Homo sapiens: one gene and its partners. The protein of the gene in region 1 interacts with the protein of each later gene in a pairwise test. Each region holds a gene or a part of one and is shown in the gene's direction. Other genes may lie near its edges.

The links.
Region 2: the proteins of ZNF212 (region 1) and GNL1 interact in a two-hybrid assay, tested with the Homo sapiens proteins (one study listed by BioGRID and IntAct).
Region 3: the proteins of ZNF212 (region 1) and SF3A3 interact in binary tests that used the Homo sapiens proteins (3 or more experiments, as listed by UniProt).

What each region holds. Positions count from the first base shown.
Region 1 is NC_000007.14:149,242,651-149,249,676, forward strand, and holds part of ZNF212 (zinc finger protein 212), read left to right. Parts: intron 1-7,026.
Region 2 is NC_000006.12:30,546,483-30,553,508, reverse strand, and holds part of GNL1 (guanine nucleotide-binding protein-like 1), read left to right. Parts: coding exon 1-159; intron 160-329; coding exon 330-425; intron 426-847; coding exon 848-1,042; intron 1,043-5,978; coding exon 5,979-6,157; intron 6,158-6,234; coding exon 6,235-6,397; intron 6,398-6,672; coding exon 6,673-6,813; intron 6,814-7,026. UniProt on the Homo sapiens protein: Possible regulatory or functional link with the histocompatibility cluster.
Region 3 is NC_000001.11:37,980,016-37,987,041, reverse strand, and holds part of SF3A3 (splicing factor 3A subunit 3), read left to right. Parts: intron 1-2,262; coding exon 2,263-2,335; intron 2,336-2,781; coding exon 2,782-2,873; intron 2,874-5,230; coding exon 5,231-5,313; intron 5,314-6,317; coding exon 6,318-6,456; intron 6,457-7,026. UniProt on the Homo sapiens protein: Component of the 17S U2 SnRNP complex of the spliceosome, a large ribonucleoprotein complex that removes introns from transcribed pre-mRNAs.

The sequences.
Region 1 (7,026 bases):
TATGAGAAGATGTGATGATGCATGGAAATGGTTAAATCTAAACAAATAGTGACTTAATAAAACGTAACAATTTCTTGTTGTGTTAAAAACAATTAAAATACATGATGGCATTGATGTAAATATGAGGAAGAGATGATCAGAACTAAAGTGTTTAAAGGGCTTTGTTAAAGGGCCTTCTATGTATGTTTCCCATAATTTCTAGGATACTTGCTAAACAACTCGAAATTGGTCGTATAACTTACAGATCAGAAAGGGGGATAATGGAATAAGAAAAAATTAATGTAAAAGAAGACAAGAAAGTAGAGAAGAAAGATGGGATAAATAGCACAAAAAAGGTAAAAATAAATCAAAGCTAATGAACAATTACAATAAATGTAAATGAATGAAATGTTCAAGTTAAAAGGCATAGATTGTCAGGATGGGGGAAAAATCCAACTAGATGGTTTAAAAGAGTTACAACCGGCTGGGCGTGGTGGCTCACGCCTGTAATCCCAGCACTTTGGGAGGCAAAGTTGGGTGGATCATGAGGTCAGGAAATTGAGACCATCCTGGCTAACACAGTGAAATTCCGTCTCTACTAGAAATACAAAAAATTAGCCAGATGTGATGGTGGGTGCCTGTAGTCCCAGCTTCTTGGGAGGCTGAGGCAGGAGACTGGCGTGAACCCAGGAGGCGGAGGTTGCTGAGGCAGGAAAATCACTTGAACCTGGGAGGCAAAGGTTGCAGTGAGCCAAGATTGCGCCACTGCACTCCAGCCTGGGTGACAGAGTGAGACTCCGTCTCAAAAAAAAAAAAAAAAAAAAAAAAAAGAGAGAGAGAGAGAGATACAACTAAAAGATAAGGATATAGAAACAGTTGAATATAAAAGGTCATGAAAAAATATGCCAAGCAAATACTAATGAAAATAAAGTTGACAAATATATTTAGTATCTTTAGAGATAGAAGGCTCCTACTACTTTTGTAATGGTAAAAGACTCAATTTACCAGCTAGATACAAAATTTCTAAACCTGTATGCACCTAATTACATAGCCTAAAAATATATAAAACAAAACTGACAGAATTGCGAGAAAGATTCACTGTTATAATAGGAGATTTTAATACAACCTTAGTATTTTATCAAATAGAAAAGACTTATAAGGGTGTAGTGCATCCAGTAGAACTTCCCAAGATGATAGAAATGTTCTGCTCTGCACTGTTTAATACAGTGGCCACTAGGCACATGTGGCTTTTGAGCACTTGAAATGTTAGCTAGTATGATTGAGGAACTGAGTTTTAAATTTTATTTATTTATTTTGAGACAGACTCTCACTCTGTCACCCAGGCTGGAGTAGAGTGGTGCAATCTTGGCTCACTGCAACCTTGCAACCTCTGCCTCCCAGTTTCAAGTGATTCTTCTGCCTCAGCCTCCTGAGTATCTGGGATTACAGTCATGTGCCACCACACCCGGCTAATTTTGTATTTTTAGTAGAGACAGGGTTTCATCATGTTGGTCAGGCTGGTCTTGAACTCCTGACCTCAAGTGATCCGGCTGTCTTGGCCTCCCAAAGGGTTGGGGTTACAGGCACGAGCCACTGTGCCCGGCTAATTTTATTTAACCAGCCACATGTGACTAGTGGATATTATATTGGAAGCACAGGTACAGAAATGATTATTTTTATTTTTATTTTTATTTTTTTTCTGAGACAGAGTCTCTCTCTGTTGCCCAGACTGGAGTGCAGTGGTGCGATCTCGGCTCACTGCAAGCTCCGCCTCCCGGGTTCATGCCATTCTCCTGCCTCAGCCTCCCCAGTGGCTGGGACTGCAGGAGCCCGTCACCACGCCCGGCTAATTCTTTTGTATTTTTAGTAGAGATGGGGTTTCACCATGTTAGCCAGGATGGTCGCGATCTCCTGACCTCATGATCCGCCCACCTTGGCCTCCCAAAGGGCTGGAATTATGGGCGTGAGCCACTGCACCTGGCCAGAAATGATTTTTTTAATCCATATATCTATCAGTATATAATATCAAAGTGTAGAGACAAAATGAAAACAAAAGAGAGGAGGCAAAAATAAAAACCTATTGGGAATGAAAATGTGTGCATTCCCATGTCTATTGGTTGATGCTGGTGTGTAGACTGAGATTGTAGGTAAGGCCGTTGAACAGAACACTTCATGCACCCTCTTCATGTGGCTTGGGATTTCTCAAGGGATTCTAGCACCTGGCTGCCTGTGATTTGCCCCACTTGACAGAGAGTGGAGCAGAGACGAACCATCCATGTGCCACCCTCCTTTAACTGCAGATTCACATGCAAAGTAGATGATGATGTCTTAAGCCACTAAATTTGGGGATTATTTGTCATACAGGAGTTGATGGTTGGAATAGATACCTAGGGAAAATGTTAAAACATTGAAAGATATTAAAAATGGAGTCTCAAAAGGCTGGGCATGGTGGCTCATGCCTATAATCCTAGCACTTTGGGAGGCTGAGGCAGGTGGATCATTTGAGGTCAGGAGTTTGAGACCCGCCTGGGCAACATGGTGAAACCCTGTCCCTACTAAAAATACAGAAAAATTAACCAGGAGTGGTGGCACACACCTGTAATCCCAGCTACTTGGGAGGCTGAGGCAGGAGAATCACTTGAACCTGAGACAGAGGTTGCAGTAAGCTGAGATCATGCCACTGCACTCCAGCCTGCAGCCTGGGCGACAGAGCGAGAGACTCCATCTCAGAAAAAAAAAAAAAAAAAGGATTTGCATACTATGTTTATGAATTGAAATTCATCCTAAATGTGTCACTTTTCTGTTGGGTGGGGTGACTCATGCCTGTAATACCAGGACGTATAATCGTGCCACTGCCCTCCAGCCTGGGTGACAGAGTGAGACCGTGTCTTTATTTATTTGAGACAGAATCTCTCTCTGTCACTGGAGGGAAGTGGTGTGATCATGGCTTCCTGCAGCCTCAATCCCCTGGGCTCAAGTGATCTTCCCACCTCAGCTTCCTGAGTGGCTGGAACTATAGGCACCTGTCATCATGCCTGGCTAATTTTATTGTCTTTTTGTAGAGATGGGATTTCACCATCTTGCCCTGGCTGTTCTTGAACTCCTGGGCTCAAGCTGTCCTCCCGCCTCAAGCCTCCCGAAGTGCTGGGATTACAGACTCGAGCCACTGTGCCCAGCCATAGATTCCCCAAGTGGGATTGCTAGGTAAAAGGGTTTTTAATGACTTGAAATTTTTCTTCCCCTAAGAGTGTGTAGTATTTTTCATTCCTTCCAGGAGTGTTATGAGAGTCAGTTTACCACATTATAGTCAGCTCTGAATGTTATTCTTTGTGTCTGTTTCATGTTTGTCAGTCTGATGGGTGAACGTGCTTTCACTTAGTTATATTTGGATTCCTGATTGTAAGGTGGTTGTGTTTTCATTTGTTTATTGACTGCCTGCATTTCCGCTTCCATGAATGATTTACAATCTGCAGTTTTATTTTGGGGTTCTTGACCTTTTTCCACTTCATATTCTGTTTACAAATATTCTCTCCTTGTTTTTAGACTTTGTTTATGTTATCTTTTATTACAGCTAGCATTTTCTCCTACTTTGACATTCTAAGACGTGTTTATTGAGATACCATTTACATACAGTAAAATTTACTCTTTAGGCAGATAGTTCAACAAATTTTGACAAATGTGTAGCCAGCATATTACCAAGATAGAGAATATTTCCATCATCCAAGAAAGTTCCCTCATATCCCTTTATAATCAGTCTTTTTTTTTTTTTTTGAGACGGAGTCTTATTCTGTTGCCCAGGCTGGAGTGCAGTGACGTGATCTCAGCTCACTGCAGGCTCCGCCTGCTGGGTTCACACCATTCTCTCGCCTCAACCTCCCAAGTAGCTGGGACTACAGGCACCTGCCACCACACCTGGCTAATTTTGTTTTTGTATTTTTAGTAGAGATGGGGTTTCACCATGTTAGCCAGGATGGTCTTGATCTCCTGACCTCATGATCAATCCGCCCTCCTCGGCCTCCCAAAGTGCTGGGGTTATAGGTGTGAGCCACTGTGCCTGGCCTATAATCAATATTTTTCTCCTATCCCTAGCCCTTGGCAACCACTGATCTGATTTCTGTCCCTATAGTTTGCTTTTTTCCAAACATGTAAATGAAACACAAATGTAGCCTTTTGTGTCTGAATTCTTTTTTTTTTTTTTTTTTTTTGGAGTTTTGCTCTTGTTGCCCAGGCTGGAGTACAATGGTGTGATCTCGGTTCACCGCAACCTCCGCCTCTCAGGTTTAAGTGATTCTCCTGCCTCAGCCTCCCGAGTAGCTGGTATTACAGGCATGCGCCACCATGCCCGGCTCATTTTGTATTTTTAGTAGAGATGGGGTTTCTCCATGTTGGTCAGGCTGGTCTCGAACTCCCAACCTCAGGTGATCCGCCCGCCTCGGCCTCCCAAAGTGCTGGGATTTTAGGTGTGAGCCACCATGCCCGGCCCTTCTTTTTTTTTTTTTTAAGTGGTCTTACTTTGTCACTCAGGCTGGAGTGCAGTAGTGTGATCATGGTTCACTGCAACCTTGAACTCCAGGGCTCAAGTGATCCTCCCATCCTCAGCCTCCCAAGTAGCTGGGACTATAGGCACATGCCACCACGTCTGGCTCATTTTAAAAAAATTGTGGAGGTGGGGGTCTTGCTTTGTTGCCCAGGCTGATCTTGAACTCCTGGGCTCAAGTGATCCATCTTAGCCTCCCAAAGTGTTGGGATTATAGGTATGAGCCACCGTGCCTGACCTTTGTCTGATTCCCGTCACTTAGCATGTTGTTAAACATGTCAGTGATTTTGGTTCCTTTTTATTACATAGTAGTAGACTTAGTAGTCGAAGTAGTAGTCTACTACTAAGTAGCAGGCTTAGTAGTCTTCTAAGCTATATAGGAAAAATACACTAAATATATAATACGGTATATAATGAAGTGTCTTATATAGTGTGTCTGTTTCCTAGGGCTGGTGTAACAAACTGGGAAGCTTAAATAACAGAAATTCTGTCTCACAGTTCTGGAGGTTAGGAGTCTGAAATCAAGATGTTTGCAGGGTTGGTTCCTTATGAGTTTTGTGTTTCTCTCCTAGCTTCTGGTGGTCCCATGTGTTTTCTTGGTTTGTGGCAGCATAAGTCCAGTCTCTGCCTTAATCTTGACATGGCCCATTATGTATTGGTGTAACAGAATACATGAGGCTGGGTAATTCATGAAGAAAAGAGGTTTAGTTGGCTCACAATTCTGGTGGCTGGAAAGTTCAAGATTGGGCAGCTGTGTCTAGTGAGGGCTTCAAGCTGCTTAAACTCATGGCAGAAAATGGAAGGGCAGCAGGTGTGTGTAGAGATCACATGGTGACAGAGGAGGCAAGAGAGAGACCAAAGAAGTCAGACTGTTTCACAACCCACTGTAGTGGGAACTAATCCATTCCTGCCAATGACAGCTCACCCCTGTGGGAGCGCATTAATTTATTTATGAGGGATATGCCCTCATGACCCAAACACCTCCCACGAGACTTCACCTCCCGACACTGCCACATTGGAAATACAATTTCAACATGGGTTTTGGTGAGGACAAACCATAGTAGACATCTTCTCCCTGTGTGTGTGTGTGTCTGCGTCTAAAGGTCCTCTGTTTTAAGGACATCAGTCATTGGATTAAGGCCCATCCTAATGACCTCATTTTAACCTGATTACCCTTGGAAGTACCTTATTTCCAAGTAAGATCACATCCTGAGGTACTGAGGATTAGGGTTTTACTGTATTATTTTGAGGAGACACAATTCAACCCATAACACTGGATGGATCACAATTTTTTCATCCATTGACTGGTTCGTGAACATTTGAATTGTTCCCATCATGCTAGATAATTCAAAACAGAAGACAAGAAGAAACTAGCTTAATCATTCTTTTCAACCTCTTACTATGTGGAAGAGGAGGGGGCTTATTCCTTTGCACAGATTCTCACCTACATTCCTGTCTAGAAAAAGTGCTACTGAGCACAGAATGCTGGGCCACAGAAAGAGGAGACTCACAGACTTAAAGTAGAAGCAAAACAAACATGATGGCATGCATATATCCAGTTTAATATTTTGTTTTGTTTCGCTTGTATTTGTCTTTTACATTGAACTTTTCTTTTAATCTCTTGCAGGAGGATGTATTTAAGCTTTTGTCTCATGTGTTCCATGATGAATTAACTGACTTGAGTAACTAGAGTAGGTCATGGCCAAACTTAAATGTTCAGTTCTGCACCAGTCAGTTTCCTTTTGTCCCATGTTCTCTGGACCACAACCCTTGGCCCCAGCAGTTCTTTCCGAGATATTTCCTCTAGTGTCTCGGTCTTGGTGGCCTCACTGTGGTTAGAGAAGCAGCCTTGAATAAAGTGTGTGCTTTATTCAAATAAAGTGAAGTTTGCAGAGGGGGTTAGGACTGAAGTGAACGTGCAGGGAGACAGTAGGGGGACAGCTTGGGGAAGACTTCCCCAGTGTTGGTTTCAGTAATTTTAGCTTCTATGACAGTGATTTTCCTACTGTCAGAGACAGCTCATTAAAGTGAAAATTATAAGGAAAATGTCAGTAGACTTAGTCACATCATTTCAGTAAATATTTTTTAAGGATTTATTCACCATCCCAGCTGCTAGAGTGCAAAGATGAATGAATTAGGTCTTGTAGGTCCTGCTAAGGAATTTTGTCTTTATTGTGGGGAGCCATTGAAAGTTTTCAAACGGGTGACATGATCAACTATGAAGTCTGGCAGGGATGTGGAAGCAAGATAAGATGTAAGTGACATCTTTTATCATATAGTCCAAAACATTAAATAAAAATAGGTTTAAAAATGAACACTGATACAGGAGTCTCAGAGAATATGCTAAGCATAAAGCATAGGTAACAGAACATACACGCTATAATTTCACTTTTGTTGAAAAAAAATAAACTAAAAGATGAAAAAAAACTTTAGAAATACACCAAAATTCAAACAGCTTCTTTCTTTCTTTTTCTTTTTTGAGACAGGGTCTCACTCTGTTACTCAGGCTG
Region 2 (7,026 bases), on another chromosome or scaffold:
GACTGGCCCTGGTGCTGGTTTTGAACAAGGTGGATCTGGCCCCGCCAGCTCTTGTGGTTGCCTGGAAGCATTATTTCCATCAACACTATCCCCAGCTCCACGTCGTCCTTTTCACCTCTTTTCCTCGGGACCCCCGCACCCCACAGGACCCTAGTAGTGGTGAGTGGGCAATGAGAGAGGGCAACTTGGGAGAGGTGAGTTGGCAGGGGACAAAGGGGAGAACAGAGAGGCTTATTGACAAGGGGGCACCTGGTCTTGGGCCTAAGGGTGGTGGGAGAGATGAGAGGCCTAAGCCCGTGTGCCCATCCTTTTGTGCCCTCTGATCTCAGTCTTGAAGAAGAGTCGGAGGCGGGGGAGAGGATGGACTCGGGCCCTGGGGCCAGAGCAGTTGCTGAGAGCCTGTGAAGCCATCACTGTGGGGAAAGGTATGTGGCCCTTAGAGGAGGGCTGTAGGAGGACATGGGGGAGACCAAAGATGCAGAATCATTTTGCTCACCTTTCCTGAAGCCAACCCCTCTATGGTGGATATGTGCAAGAGGCCAGGGGAAGGGACAGAATAAGGAGCAGACTGACTTGGTGGGACGAGAGGCAGCAGGTAGTCAGGAGCCTCAGTGGCTTGCTGCCTTTAGCCTTCCCAGTACTTTTCAGAAGCTCAGAGAAACGTGCGTGATTCCAGGGAGGGTAGGGTCAAATGACTTTTGGGAGATTCTCTGACCTGCTCTTATTTAGGTTGGCACTGTACAACTCCAGAGGGTGCCAGTTACATAATCTGTGCAGGGCACAGTATGTGCCATCATGCACAGCAGCCCTGGGGAGAACCTCTTTAATCTTCTCCTTCTTTGAGCAGTGGACTTGAGCAGCTGGCGGGAGAAGATTGCTCGGGATGTGGCTGGGGCCACCTGGGGTAATGGCTCTGGGGAGGAGGAGGAAGAGGAGGATGGCCCAGCAGTCCTGGTGGAGCAGCAGACTGATTCAGCAATGGAGCCAACTGGCCCAACCCAAGAGCGCTACAAGGATGGGGTGGTGACCATCGGCTGTGTGGGTAAGGAAGTGGCAGCTTGTGCGTGGTGGCCTCCAAGGAGGTACAGAGTTTTCATATTCGGAGAAGAGAGAGGGCGATCAGGTCTCATTAGGCCCCAGGGTGTCTGAGGGGTGATCTCTGCCAGTGGCGGTGGGCAAGGCAGAAGAGGCGTCTGCTGCAGTGGAAGGATCATGACAGCCTGAGTTAAATTCCACCTCTTCTCAGCTGTGAGGTCTTGAGTAAGTGATTTTGCTACTCTGAGTCTTAGTTACTTTGATTTTAAAAATAAGGACATTGATACCTGAGTAAAAGAATGGATGACGGCCATGTGTGAGGGCTCATGCCTATATAGTCCCAGCGCTTTGGGAGGCTGAGGTGGGAGGATTGCTTGAGACCAGGAGCTCAAGACTAGTCTGGGCAACATAGTGAAACCCCATCTTTACAAAAGATAAAGAAAACTAGCCAAGTGTGGTGGTATGTGCCTGTAGTCTCTGCTACTTCAGAGGCTGAGGCAGGAGGATCACTTGAGCCCAAGAGTTCAAGGCTGCAGTGAGCTATGATTGTGCCACTGCACTCCAGCCTGGCTGATAGAGACCCTGTCTTTAAAAAAAAAGAATGGATGTGAGGAATGATGGGAATAGTGTTAAGAGAGTGTAAGAATGCCTGACAAATAGTGATAACAATAATAACAATTATTATTGTTAAAACTCAGTATTTATATGGTGCTTACTATGTAACAGGCACTGTTTTAAGTGGTTTATATAAACCATTTGAATTGTAGTAATTAGTCTGTAGTACAGTGATTATCAAATCATAGTAGGAGCTCAGCAAGAATTAGTATTCTTCTAGGTTTTAACCCTTTAAGTTTGTTGCCAAGGAGAATCTCCTCTTAAGGGCTTTGTCTCAGCTCACAGTGGAGGAAAAAGGAATGTATGATTAGGACCCAGGGCCCGTCTTCATTTAGGGTGGGAGAGGTAAGAAGAGACCTTGGACAAGTTATGGTATCTGAGGTGATATTGGAACCAAAAAGGGCCCAACCCAGAATAAATTTGGGAGTGTGGAGTAGGTAGTTGGGTTCCTTGGAAGTGCCCTGACTTATCTCTGTGTCCTTTTTGTCTTTGGAAGAACCTGCCTTACTGCTGAGTGATTGCTCCTCTTTCCAGTCATTTCACCCGGCTGTCCCTTCCCTGACTTCTGATCCTAGTCTCCCTGTCACAAGGAGCCTCTGTTCCCTCTCTTAGCAGCCTCTGCTCTAGCTGATCTCTATTCCAGGTGGTGTGAGAGGGAGAGTGTTTGCTGTGGCACAGGCACCCCTGAGTTTGGATTTCCCTCCAGCTCTCATTCATTTACCCATTCAACAAATATGTACTGAACACTTAACCAGGTGCCAGATATTCTAGGGATGGGACATACTGCTGTGGAAATGGCAAAAAGGTCTGTAGATTCATGGAGCTTATTTTCTTGTGAGTAAATAGATTTTGTGATCCGAAATCATGTAGGGGCAGTGAAGGCAATAAAGCAATGAAAGGGGATAGAGAGTGACTGAGAGGAGAGGTGCTCAGGGAAAACCTCCCTGAGGAGAGAACTGGATGATGAGATGAAGTGAGCCATTCAGAACTGTGGGGAAAGGGTCTTGAGGAGGGAACGGGCTTGGAGATTCTAGGACCAGCAAGAGTGCCCAGGGGATTGGAGTATGGGAGCCAGGATAAAGTACTGGGGATGAGGTCAGCAAGATCACCAGGGCCCACATCATGTAGAGCCCTGAGGCTGTGACAGCCATTTTGGATTTTATTCCAAGTCTCATGAGAAGCCAAGGGTAGGTTTTGAACAGGGGAATGATAGGATCTGATTTTGTTTCTTATAAGTTTACCTCCTGAGTAGAGAATAAATGATGGGGGGTGGGCAAGAAAGGGAGCAGAGAGAGCAGTTGAGGCTATTTCAGTAATCTAGGAGAGAAATAAGAGTTGCTTAGAGTAGGATGCTGGAGCTGGAGGTGGTGAGACAGGGCCGGAAGCATGATATATTTTGAAGGTAGAGAAAATGAGATCGCTGATGGCTTGCAGTTGGCACGTGAAGGAAAGTGAGGATAAAGAAGGACTTCCAGGTTTTTGTCTTGAGCAACTGGAAATACTGAGATGGGAAGACTGGGGGAGAAGCAGATTTGAAGGCTTTGGGGAGGAGAGGGGAATCAGAAATGAAATTTCAGATTCTTTTTAAATATCCCTAGTGGAGATGTTGAATAGGCAGTGGGTAAGTAGTCAGCAGCTTAGGGGAGAGAAGAGGACGGAAATTTGAATTTGGGAAAGATTTAAATTTGGGGAACCATTGATGGATATAAGTGGTATTTAAAGCCACAGGATTAGGCTGGGCACAGTGGCTCATGCCTATAATCCCAGCCCTTTGGGAGGCTGAGGCAGGTGGATCACTTGAGGCCAGGAGTTTGAGACCAGCCTGGCCAACATGGTGAAACCCTGTCTCTACCAAAAAATACAGAAAATTAGCCGTGTGTGGTGGTGCGTGCCTGTAGTCCCAGATACTCAGGAGGGTGAGGCAGGAGAATTGCTTGAATCCTGGAGGCAGAGGTTACGGTGAGCCAAGATCATACCACTGCACTCCAGCCTGGGTGACAGAGCAAGACTTCGTCAAAAAAAAAAAAAAAAAAGCCATGGAATTGGATGAGATGTAGGAGAGAAAGGAAATAGTTGGAGAAGAGGAGGTCAAGGACTGAGCCTTAGGACAAGCCAGCATTTAGTTGGGCAAAGGACAGTGAGAAGGAGGAAAACCAAGGGAGCGTCCCAGAAGTCAAATGAAGAAGGTGTTTGAAGAGGAAAGGAGGAATCAGCTGTGTCAACTGTTGCTGACAGGCCAAATGAGAGAACAGAGAGCTGCTCAGCAGGCTTGGCAATGTGAAGATCCGTGGTTTCAGTGGGGTGGAGAAAGCCAAACTGGAGTAGGCCCATGAGAGAAGGTGCAACAACTTCACATAACATTGTGTGAAAAGAGTCTGACCCAATAGCATCCATACTGCACAATTTCAGTTCTATCAAGTTTGAAAGCTGCAAAATTAAGCTGCATTGTTGAGAGATACACAGGTCATAAACTAAAGAGAAATGTAAGGAGTTGATTTCCTTAAAAGGATAAAGCTTGCATGTATAGAGGGAGAGGATTATGATCAAGAAGGATGAGTGGCGGCCGGTATGGTGGCTCATCCCTGTAATCCTAGCACTTTGGGAGGCTGAGGCAGGCGCATTACTTGAGGTCAGGAGTTTGAGACCAGCCTGGCCAACATGGCAAAACCCTATCTCTACTAAAAATACAAAAAGTTAGCCAGGTGTGGAGCCGCACGCCTGTGGTCTCAGCTACTCAGGAGGTTGAGGCACGAGAATCGCTTGAACCTGGGAGGATGAGGTTGTAGTGAGCCAACATCGCACCACTGCACTCCAGCCCGGGTGAGGGAGTGAGACTCTGTCTCAAAAACAAAAACAAAAAAAACAAGGACAGATGGAACATGTTGTCACACATTGGGTGGTATGGGGTTCATCAGGCTGCACATGTATGTTCTGTGCATTTTTTTGTATGTTGTAGTTTACAGTTACAAAGAAGATAGCAGGAAGAAATGGTGAAAAAAGTAGGTAAGTCTTTTAAGGAGTTTTCCTGCAAAGCGGACAGAGAACTAGGTCTGGTGGTGGTCGTCAAAGGAGAACTTTTTTCTCCCTCCTTCCCTCCCTTCCTCCTAGATACTTGCATGTGTTGTAAAGAGTGAGCACAGTGGTACATCTTTTCTTAGCCACAGTCAGCTGCCCAGGAGCAGTGCTGAATGGGCAGAGCTGGATTTTACAGGGTTGGGATTTTGCCAGGTGAGTAAGATAGAGGGGAGAAGTGGGACCAGGGAGTTCCAGGTCTGTGAACGGGCCTGGCTGAGGAGCTGGATCATGAAATCTGAGTCAAGTAAGAAGGAAATTGAGGACACGAGTTGGGTATTGCATAGTGTTACTGTGTTAAGGTCAGGGGTCAAAGACTTACTGGCATGGAGTAACCAGAGTAAGTGAGCTGGAAAGATGAGTTGTCAGGGCAGAGAGGGGTGCTTGGAATTGAGGCTTTGGAGCTGTGAAGTGACAAGATGCAGGTATTACCATGGGAGTGGGCAGCTGAGGTGGGGTAAAGGAGATGCTCTGTGGAAGGGAGATGAAGGCACTGAAGTCAGCCAGAAACACAAAAACTGGTGGTGGTGAGTGAGCAGAGTGGCAGTGAGCCCCAAGGCTTCCAGTTTTCTCCTTGGACAAGTCATCGTAATTATTATTATTATTTTTTGAGATGGAGTTTCCCTCTTATTGCCCAGGCTGGAGTGCAATGGTGCAATCTCAGCTCACTGCAACCTCCGCCTCCTGGGTTCAAGTGGTTCTCCTGCCTCAGCCTCCCAAGTAGCTGCAATTACAGGCGCCCACCACCACGCCCAGCTAATTTTTGTATTTTTAGTAGAGATGGGGTTTCACCATGTTGGCCAGGCTGGTCTTGAAGTCCTGACCTCAGGTGATCCACCCGCCTTGGCCTCCCAAAGTAATCACGCTGGGATTACAAGCGTGAGCCACTGTGCCAGGCCAAGTCATAGTAATTATGAGATGTGGATCACTGGTACTGGGTACTTACTGTACTGCAGGCACTGACCCACACAAGTTGTATTGGTTATCTCATTTAATCCTGACCACCCTGAGGTAGGGAGGTGTCCACACTGTAAAATGAAGAAACAGAGGCTCAGAAAGTTAGTTGCCCTGACATCACAAAGCTGGTAAGTGGAAGGGCCAGGATTTAACCCTGGCAGCCCAGAGCGTGATTTGTATTCTGCAATACCATTTCCTTAATTTCTGAGCCTTAGTTCCCCTTTTACCTATAGGTATAGCACCAAGTCCCATCACAGAGTAGAAACCTGTTAAACGTTAATTTTCCTTGCCTTCCTCAGGTTTCCCTAATGTGGGAAAGTCCTCGCTGATCAATGGGCTGGTGGGGCGGAAAGTCGTGAGTGTCTCCAGAACCCCGGGCCATACCCGATACTTTCAGACCTACTTTCTTACCCCCTCTGTGAAGCTCTGTGACTGCCCAGGCCTCATCTTCCCATCTCTTCTGCCTAGGCAGTTGCAGGTATGACGGGGAGGGTGGGTAAGGGAAAGAGAGAAGGTGGGACATTGAGGAAAGTACTGAGTGCTCATTTCCCTCAGGTTCTGGCAGGGATCTACCCTATCGCCCAGATCCAGGAGCCCTACACTGCTGTGGGCTACCTGGCCTCCCGAATTCCCGTGCAGGCCCTGCTCCACCTGCGCCACCCAGAGGCTGAGGACCCCTCAGCGGAACACCCCTGGTGTGCCTGGGACATCTGTGAAGGTGAGTTCCATGTGCCTGGCTTCGCCCCACCTGGTTTCAGCTGCTCTTCCTTACCTGCCTCGCCTTTTACCCTTCCCTGTCTCCTTTCCTCTCCTCAGAGATTCTGCCATTGATGAAGCTGCTGTCCACTCACCCCTAGATTTTTGTTGCATAGCCAGTAAGATCTCTGGCCTGGAATGTTTTGGGGAAAACTGGAAGGACTGTGTTATGGGAGTGGGAGTATAACTGGTACCTGGTTAATGCTTTCCCTTTCCATTATTCTTTTCTTCCTCCAGCCTGGGCAGAGAAACGTGGTTACAAGACAGCCAAGGCGGCTCGGAATGATGTGTACAGAGCAGCCAACAGTCTCTTGCGGCTGGCAGTGGACGGCCGCCTCAGCCTGTGTTTTCATCCCCCAGGCTACAGTGAACAGAAAGGTCAGAGCCCAGATATTCTTCCCCAGCCCCCTGCTATAGCGTAGGTAAAAGGGTGTGGGCTTTGTGGCCAGAGAGAGGGTCAAACCTGGATTCTGTACCTGTTGGCTAGCTCTGTTACTTAACATCTGTGATATTTTCCTGATCTGCAAACTGAGGGTAATAATTGACCCTTAGCATAGTGATTGTAAAGATTGAAGTTGATGTGCACAAAGG
Region 3 (7,026 bases), on another chromosome or scaffold:
CACAGTATGGGTACTAGGGCCCAGCAATTTGGTCCACTCTGAGACTCCTCTGATGAATAATCTTTGCTCCATGGCTCCCCGTTGGGTTGGTCAAGATTTTGTCCAATCTGCATTGTGGTCTAGGCTATCCTGTCCTAATCCTACTTTCTCTTCCTTTTTATCTTTCACAGAAATTACTCTCCCCAATAAATTGTGTTCCTAACTCTGTCTTTTTTTTTTTTTTTTTTTTTGAGATGGAGTCTCGCTCTGTTGCCCAGGCTGGAGTGCAGTGGCATGATCTCGGCTCACTGCAAGCTCCACCTCCCGAGTTCATGCCATTCTCCTTCCTCAGCCTCCTGAGTAGCTGGGACTACAGGTGCCTGCCACCACGCCTGGCTAATTTTATGTATTTTTTAGTTGAGACAGGGTTTCACCATGTTAGCCAGGATAGTCTCTATCTCCTGACCTTGTGATCCGCCCACCTCGGCCTCCCAAAGTGCTGGGATTACAGGCATGAGCCACCGCGCCCGGCCCTCATATGCCCTGGAGCTCACTTATAATAAGGTAAAGAGAAAAAGGGCCTGGGAAGGCTTCCATCAGAAAGGTCACATGACCACTCCAGGTGGTGTTGCCTTACTGAAGTTAAGCAAAAGAGAGTTTCAGAAAGGCAGTCATGGTGTCAACTGTTATTGATTTATATCTGCCAGGATTGCTGCTTCATTAAAGTAGTATGAATGGAAATCTGGTCACAAGGTAAAGATGGGTAATGGGGAAGTAGAAGTATGGAGTATGGAACATGCATTTGAAAGGCTGGTAGCCAGGTGCAGTGACTCACGCCTGTAATCCCAGCACTTTGGGAGGCCGAGGCGGGTCGATCATCTGAGGTCAGGAGTTGGAGACCAGCCTGGCCAAAATGGTGAAACCTCTCTCTACTAAAAACACAAAAATTAGCCGGGCATGGTGGTGCACGCCTGTGATCCCAGCTTCTCATGAGGCTGAGACAGGAGAATCGCTTGAACCCAGGACATGGAGGTTGCAGTGAGCTGAGATCACGCCACTGCACTCCAGCCTGGGCAACAGAGCAAGACTCCGTCAAAAAAAAAAAAAAAAAAAGTCTGGTAGGAAAAAGAAGGGGAGAAACAGGAGGGTATTGGGGAAGACAGAGAAGCATACTTATTTGAAGGAGCACAGGGAAAAAGGAAGAGACTAAAAACAGCAAAAAATAGAGGCTGTTTATTGCAATACATAGCGCGGAGGTAAATGAAGGGACCCTCACACACATAGCCCCCTTGGAGGATAGAGAATGAGGTCTTCTGCTAACCAAGGGAGAATAAATGAATACCATTCTGATGTGTTAACCTTATTCCAGCCATGGTCAAAAGGTAATGAGGAATAAATGCTTAAATAACTGATTAGAAGGATGCCCAAGATATACTAAATGTCAGACGCAAGTCTTTTATGTTAAAAAAACAAAAACAAAAACCTATGCAGGCATGAATGTACTTGTACAAATACATATATTTAAATACATAGAGCACTGTTTTCCAAACTTTGTGCATATTTGAGCCACCTGGGGATCTTTAAAAAGTACTGATACCTGCCCTCCTTTGATTTAATTGGTATCAGGTGCATCAGGATTTAAAAAAAAAACTCCCCCAGGTGATTCTAATGTGCAGCAAAGTTTGGGAACCACTGGCATAGCAAAAGCTCTGTTAACAGTGGTCACCTGTTCTCAGGAGAATTAATAAAGGTGGACTTTTGAGTTTTTGTGAGCATGTGTTACTTTAGTGGGTTTTACTCAAACAGTACAAAAAAGCGGGGAAAAACAAGGTAATTGGAGAACAGTAGTAGATTTCCTAGTGAAAAATCAAGGCCAAATAAATCATCAGAAGTCCAACTTTCTGTGTATTTCATTTCTGTGATCTTGCAACTTTTACATTGAAAAATCCGCCTGCGGTCAGGCACAGTGGCTCATGCCTGTAATCCCAGCACTTTGGGAGGCCAAGGTGGGCAGATCACTTGAGCTTAGGAGTTTGAGACCAGCCTGGGCAACATGGCAAAACCCTGTCTCTACTAAAAATACAAGAATTAGCCAAGCGTGGTGGTGTGTGCCTATAATCCCAGCTACTCGGGTGGCCGAGGCAGGACAATCGCTTGAACCCGGGAGGTAGAGGTTGCAGTGAGCCAAGATTGTGCCAGTGCACTCCAGCCTGGGCCACAGAGTGAGAATCCATCTCAAAAGCAAAAAGAAAAATCCACCTGAGCTTTTACTTTTCCCCTCAGATCTGTGTGCCAATGTCAGTGGAATTTGAGGAACTCCTGAAGGCTCGAGAGAATCCAAGTGAAGAGGCACAAAGTAAGTAGGGGTGAAAATTTCATTCAGCACCAGCAAAAATACAGGTTAATGACAGCTCAGATTTGCAGCCATGGCCTCAGAGATATTTATAGCCAGGATTTCTTGCTGGTTTTGTCTTTGCTGGTTTCTGGGCTAGAGTGACATCCTAAGTTGGTCTTGGGCAAAATGTTCATTTTGTTCTCTCCTACCTCAAATTTACTGGCTTGGAAAGCCAAGGATTGTTCACTTTAGTTCACAATACTAAAATGAGTCAGTCCTTGTTACCTTGTAAGAGAAAACTCACTTTTGATCTCACTTAACTTATTGGAGGTTATATTGTGAGCAAAGGGAAGACATTTGGGTGAAGTGCTGCCTCAGGAAACTAGGAACACACAGTCCATTTGAAAAGGTAAGTCCAAGAGAGTGGTCTGTAGAAACTGAATCATTGATGTATCTGATTCCCTCAGACTTGGTGGAGTTCACAGATGAAGAGGGATATGGTCGTTATCTCGATCTCCATGACTGTTACCTCAAGTACATTAACCTGAAGGCATCTGAGGTAAGGCCTGGGAAAGGGCAGAGAGGTTCTGATTCTCGAAGTGAGTCAGGACAGTAGGCTGGAACTAGCAGACATGAAGCCATTGTAAAGTGTCTTCCTTGTGTTTTAAAACTCTTATGTAAATATTAAAGAGGTGATATGCTCTCTTGGAATGAAATACTATTCAAAATGAAAGTTTTCTACAGTGAAAACAAGAAGCATATTTATTTATTAATACTTTTTTTTTTATTTTGAGATGAGGTCTTACCATGTTGCCCAGTCTGGAGTGCAGTGGTATGATCTTTGCTCACTGCAACCTCGACTTCTGGGCTCAAGTGATCTCCTGCCTTAGCCTTCTGAGTATTTGAGGCTACAGGTGCATACCACCACCACACTTGGCTAATTTTTGTCTTTTTTTGTAAAGATGGGGTCTTGCAGTGTTGCCCAGGCTGGTCACAAACTCCTGACCTCAAATGATCCTCCTGTCTCGGCCTCCCACAGTGTTGGGATACAGGCATGAGCCATTGTACCCAGTCCATTATCAATACAGCAAGCATATTTTACCTTTGCCAAAATAAATCTTTTTTTTTTTTTTTTTTTTTTGAGACAGGGTCTCACTTTGTCACCCAGGCTGGAGTGCAGTGGCGCGATCTTGGCTCACTGTAGCCTAGACCTCTTGGACTCAAGTGATGGATCCCGCCTCAGCCCCACCAAGTACTTGGGACTACAGGCGTGTGCCACCATGCCCAGCTAATTTTTTGTATTTTGTGTAGAGATGGGGTTTTGCCATGTTGCCAAGGCTGGTCTTAAACTCCTGAGCTCAAGCAATCCGTCTGTCTTGGCCTCACAAAGTGTTGGGATTATAGACGGAAGCCACTGCATCCAGCCTTACATAAGATTTCTTTAAATTCTTTTTTTTTTTTTTTTTTTTTTAAATAAATACCATGTTCCTGGCTGGACACAGTTGCTCACGCCTGTAATCCTAGCACTTTGGGAGGCCAAGGTGGGCAGATCACCTGGGGTCAGGAGTTCAAGACCAGCCTGACCAACATGGAGAAACCCCGTCTCTACTAAAAATACAAAATTAGCTGGGCATGGTGGCGCATGCCTGTAATCCTAGCTACTCAGGAGGCTGAGGCAGGAGAATCGCTTGAACCCAGGAGGCGGAGGTCGCGGTAAGCCGAGATTGTGTCATTCATTGCACTCCAGCCTGGGCAACAAGAGCAAAACTCAAACTCAAAAAAAAAAATTTTTTTTTGTAGAAATAGGGTTTCACTGTATTGTCCAGGCTAGTCTTGGACTCCTGGACTCAATCAATCCTCCTGCCTCAGCTTCTCAAAGCCTTGGGATTACAGGCATGAGCCACTGTGCCCACCCAGATTTATGTGTTCTTCTAGGTGTTCCTGTTTTAGACACAAACAATACTAGGTACATGGAAAATAAAACAACATGATCTTTCAGTCAGCAAAAAGGTATTTAATGTCTTTTCTTAAAGATGTTTAAAAATAGCTTATCACAGGCCGGGCGCGGTGGCTCACGCCTGTAACCCCAGCACTTTGGGAGGCCAAGGCAGGTGGATCACCTGAGGTCAGGTGTTCAAGACCTGCCTGACCAACATGCAGAAACCCTGTCTCTACTAAAAATAGAAAAAATTAGCCGGGCATGGTGGCTCATGCCTGTAATCCCAATTACTCAGGAGGCTGAGGCAGGAGAATCGCTTGAACCCATGAGGTGGAGGTTGTGGTGAGCCGAGATCATGCCATTGCACTCCAGCCTGGGCAACAAGAGCCAAACTCCGTCTCAAAAAAAAAAAAAATAGCTTATCACAAGAGATGAGGTTTAATATGACAATCTCAAAAGGATCACAAGGAAATCCATGATTAGATTCCTCATGGAATTGTGAAGAAATGTCCCAGAGTTGTAGTGACCAAACTTCAAGTTCCATGCAGGCAAGTCAGATCCCTTGTCTGTTTTGTTGTTTTCTGTACCCCGTACTTGGTACAAAGATGCTTAATAAGTAGTTACTTGCGTGAACAAATGGCACCTTTGAGCACCTTGTTTTAGGGTGTCAGAGTCTTTAACCAAGACCCTAGCATGAGGTAATAATCGACAAACGTTTCTTTTAGTTTAATGTTCATTAACTTGATCTTTATTTTGTAAAGTTATTATGTCTGATATTTTCCTTCAGTCCAGTGAAATTAACACTCCAGTTGTAGTAGGATTGAATGATAGGCAAGCAAAAAAAACCAAAATTAGCCAGCCCTTGTTACTTCTTTAGAAAACACTCAATTTTGATCTCACTTATTGGAGATTATATTGTAACTTGTTACAGTATAAATACCTAACTGAATTTCTTGTCATTTCTTTCCTCTTTTCAGAAGCTGGATTATATCACATACCTGTCCATCTTTGACCAATTATTTGACATTCCTAAAGAAAGGAAGAATGCAGAGTATAAGAGGTAGGCATTAATAGTTTCTAGGCCTCTCCTGGATTTGATTAGAAGATAATGTGAAGTTTTTGAGGGTGAAGTTCTGAATTTGTTGCCTGGAAGGCATACATGAAGGCATACTTCCAGGTTTATTGGAGGATGGGGTTATGAATGATGTGGTTTTAAAACCTTTGCGATAGTCTGGACGTGGACAAAGGTGTGTCTGTGGGCACATCTTCCATCTTATGCCCATAGTGTTCTTAATTTTGTCTCATTATAGAAGGAACTCTCCCACTCTGGGATTTCTGTGTTTTTGGAGTTTAATGGGAAAAAAAATTAGACTTTCTCAGATAGTGACTGAAGTGAGATGCTTAGGTGTGATGTATAAGTGAAAAATTTATGTTTTTGTTAATTACTCTCCTGATTAGTGATTTTATACCCTTCCCCTCTTTTTCTCATTTTCTTTTTACTGAAATCTTTTATGTGCAAAGTAATTAAGACCTTAGTATTTAGCATCATTTTATGAGAATAAAAGGAGGCGGGAAAGGTCAGAATCAAAATGACATGTTGGGAAAAAAGTCCATTGTAAGTTCATTTAAAAATGAGTATTGGCCGGGCGCGGTGGCTCACACCTGTAATCCCAGCACTTTGGGAGGCCGAGGCAGACGGATCACCTGAGGTCAGGAGTTCGCGACCAGCCTGACCAACGTGGAGAAACACCGTCTCTGCTAAAAATACAAAATTAGCCGGGCATGGTGGCGCATGCCTGTAATCCCAGCTATTCGGGAGGCTGAGACAGGAGAATCGCTTTAACCCGGGAGGCGGAGGTTGTGGTGAGCCAAGATCCCGCCATTGCACTCCAGCCTGGGTAAGAGGAGCGAAACTCTGCCTCAAAAAAAAAAAAAAAAAAAAAAAAAGAGTATTAAAAAGATAGCATTACTAGAATTATAAGTACTTTATATTCTGCAGGGAATAACAAGATACCAAAAATAGAAACCCTTTTTGCTTTGTCTGCATTGTGTGTTCCTCTGTAGATACCTAGAGATGCTGCTTGAGTACCTTCAGGATTACACAGATAGAGTGAAGCCTCTCCAAGATCAGAATGAACTTTTTGGGAAGATTCAGGCTGAGTTTGAGAAGAAATGGGAGAATGGGACCTTTCCTGGATGGCCGGTGAGCTTCAGTGGGATGTGAATGGTGGACATGCCAGGGAATTGAAGTAATTATTTTCCTTTATCTTGAGCTTCCACTTTAGGGCATTAGGTATCAATTCCTTGGTATCACTTGTGACAATGAGGTATTCCCTGCCAAGTATGCTATGTTTTTTTTTTTTGGAGACGGAGTTTCGCTTTTGTTGCCCAGGCTGGAGTACAATGGCGGGATCTCGGCTCACCTCAACCTCCGCTTCCCGGGTTCAAGCAGTTCTCCTGCCTCAGCCTCCCGAGTAACTGGGATTACAGGCACGCGCCTCCACACCCGGCTAATTTTGTGTTTTTAGTGGGGACAGGGTTTCTCCATATTTGTCAGGCTGGTCTCAAATTCCCGACCTCAGGTGATCCGCCCACCTCGGCCTCCCAAAGTGCTGGGATTACAGGTGTGAGCCACCGCACCTGGCCGTATGTGAGTTTTTTTGAGTGTACTTTGGAGCAAGACTGCCAGGGTCCACTTGCCTTTGACTGTGCCCAGATTTTCACCAATCACATCATTACTGCTATGTGGTTCCTGCCAACCAAGAGCTTATCA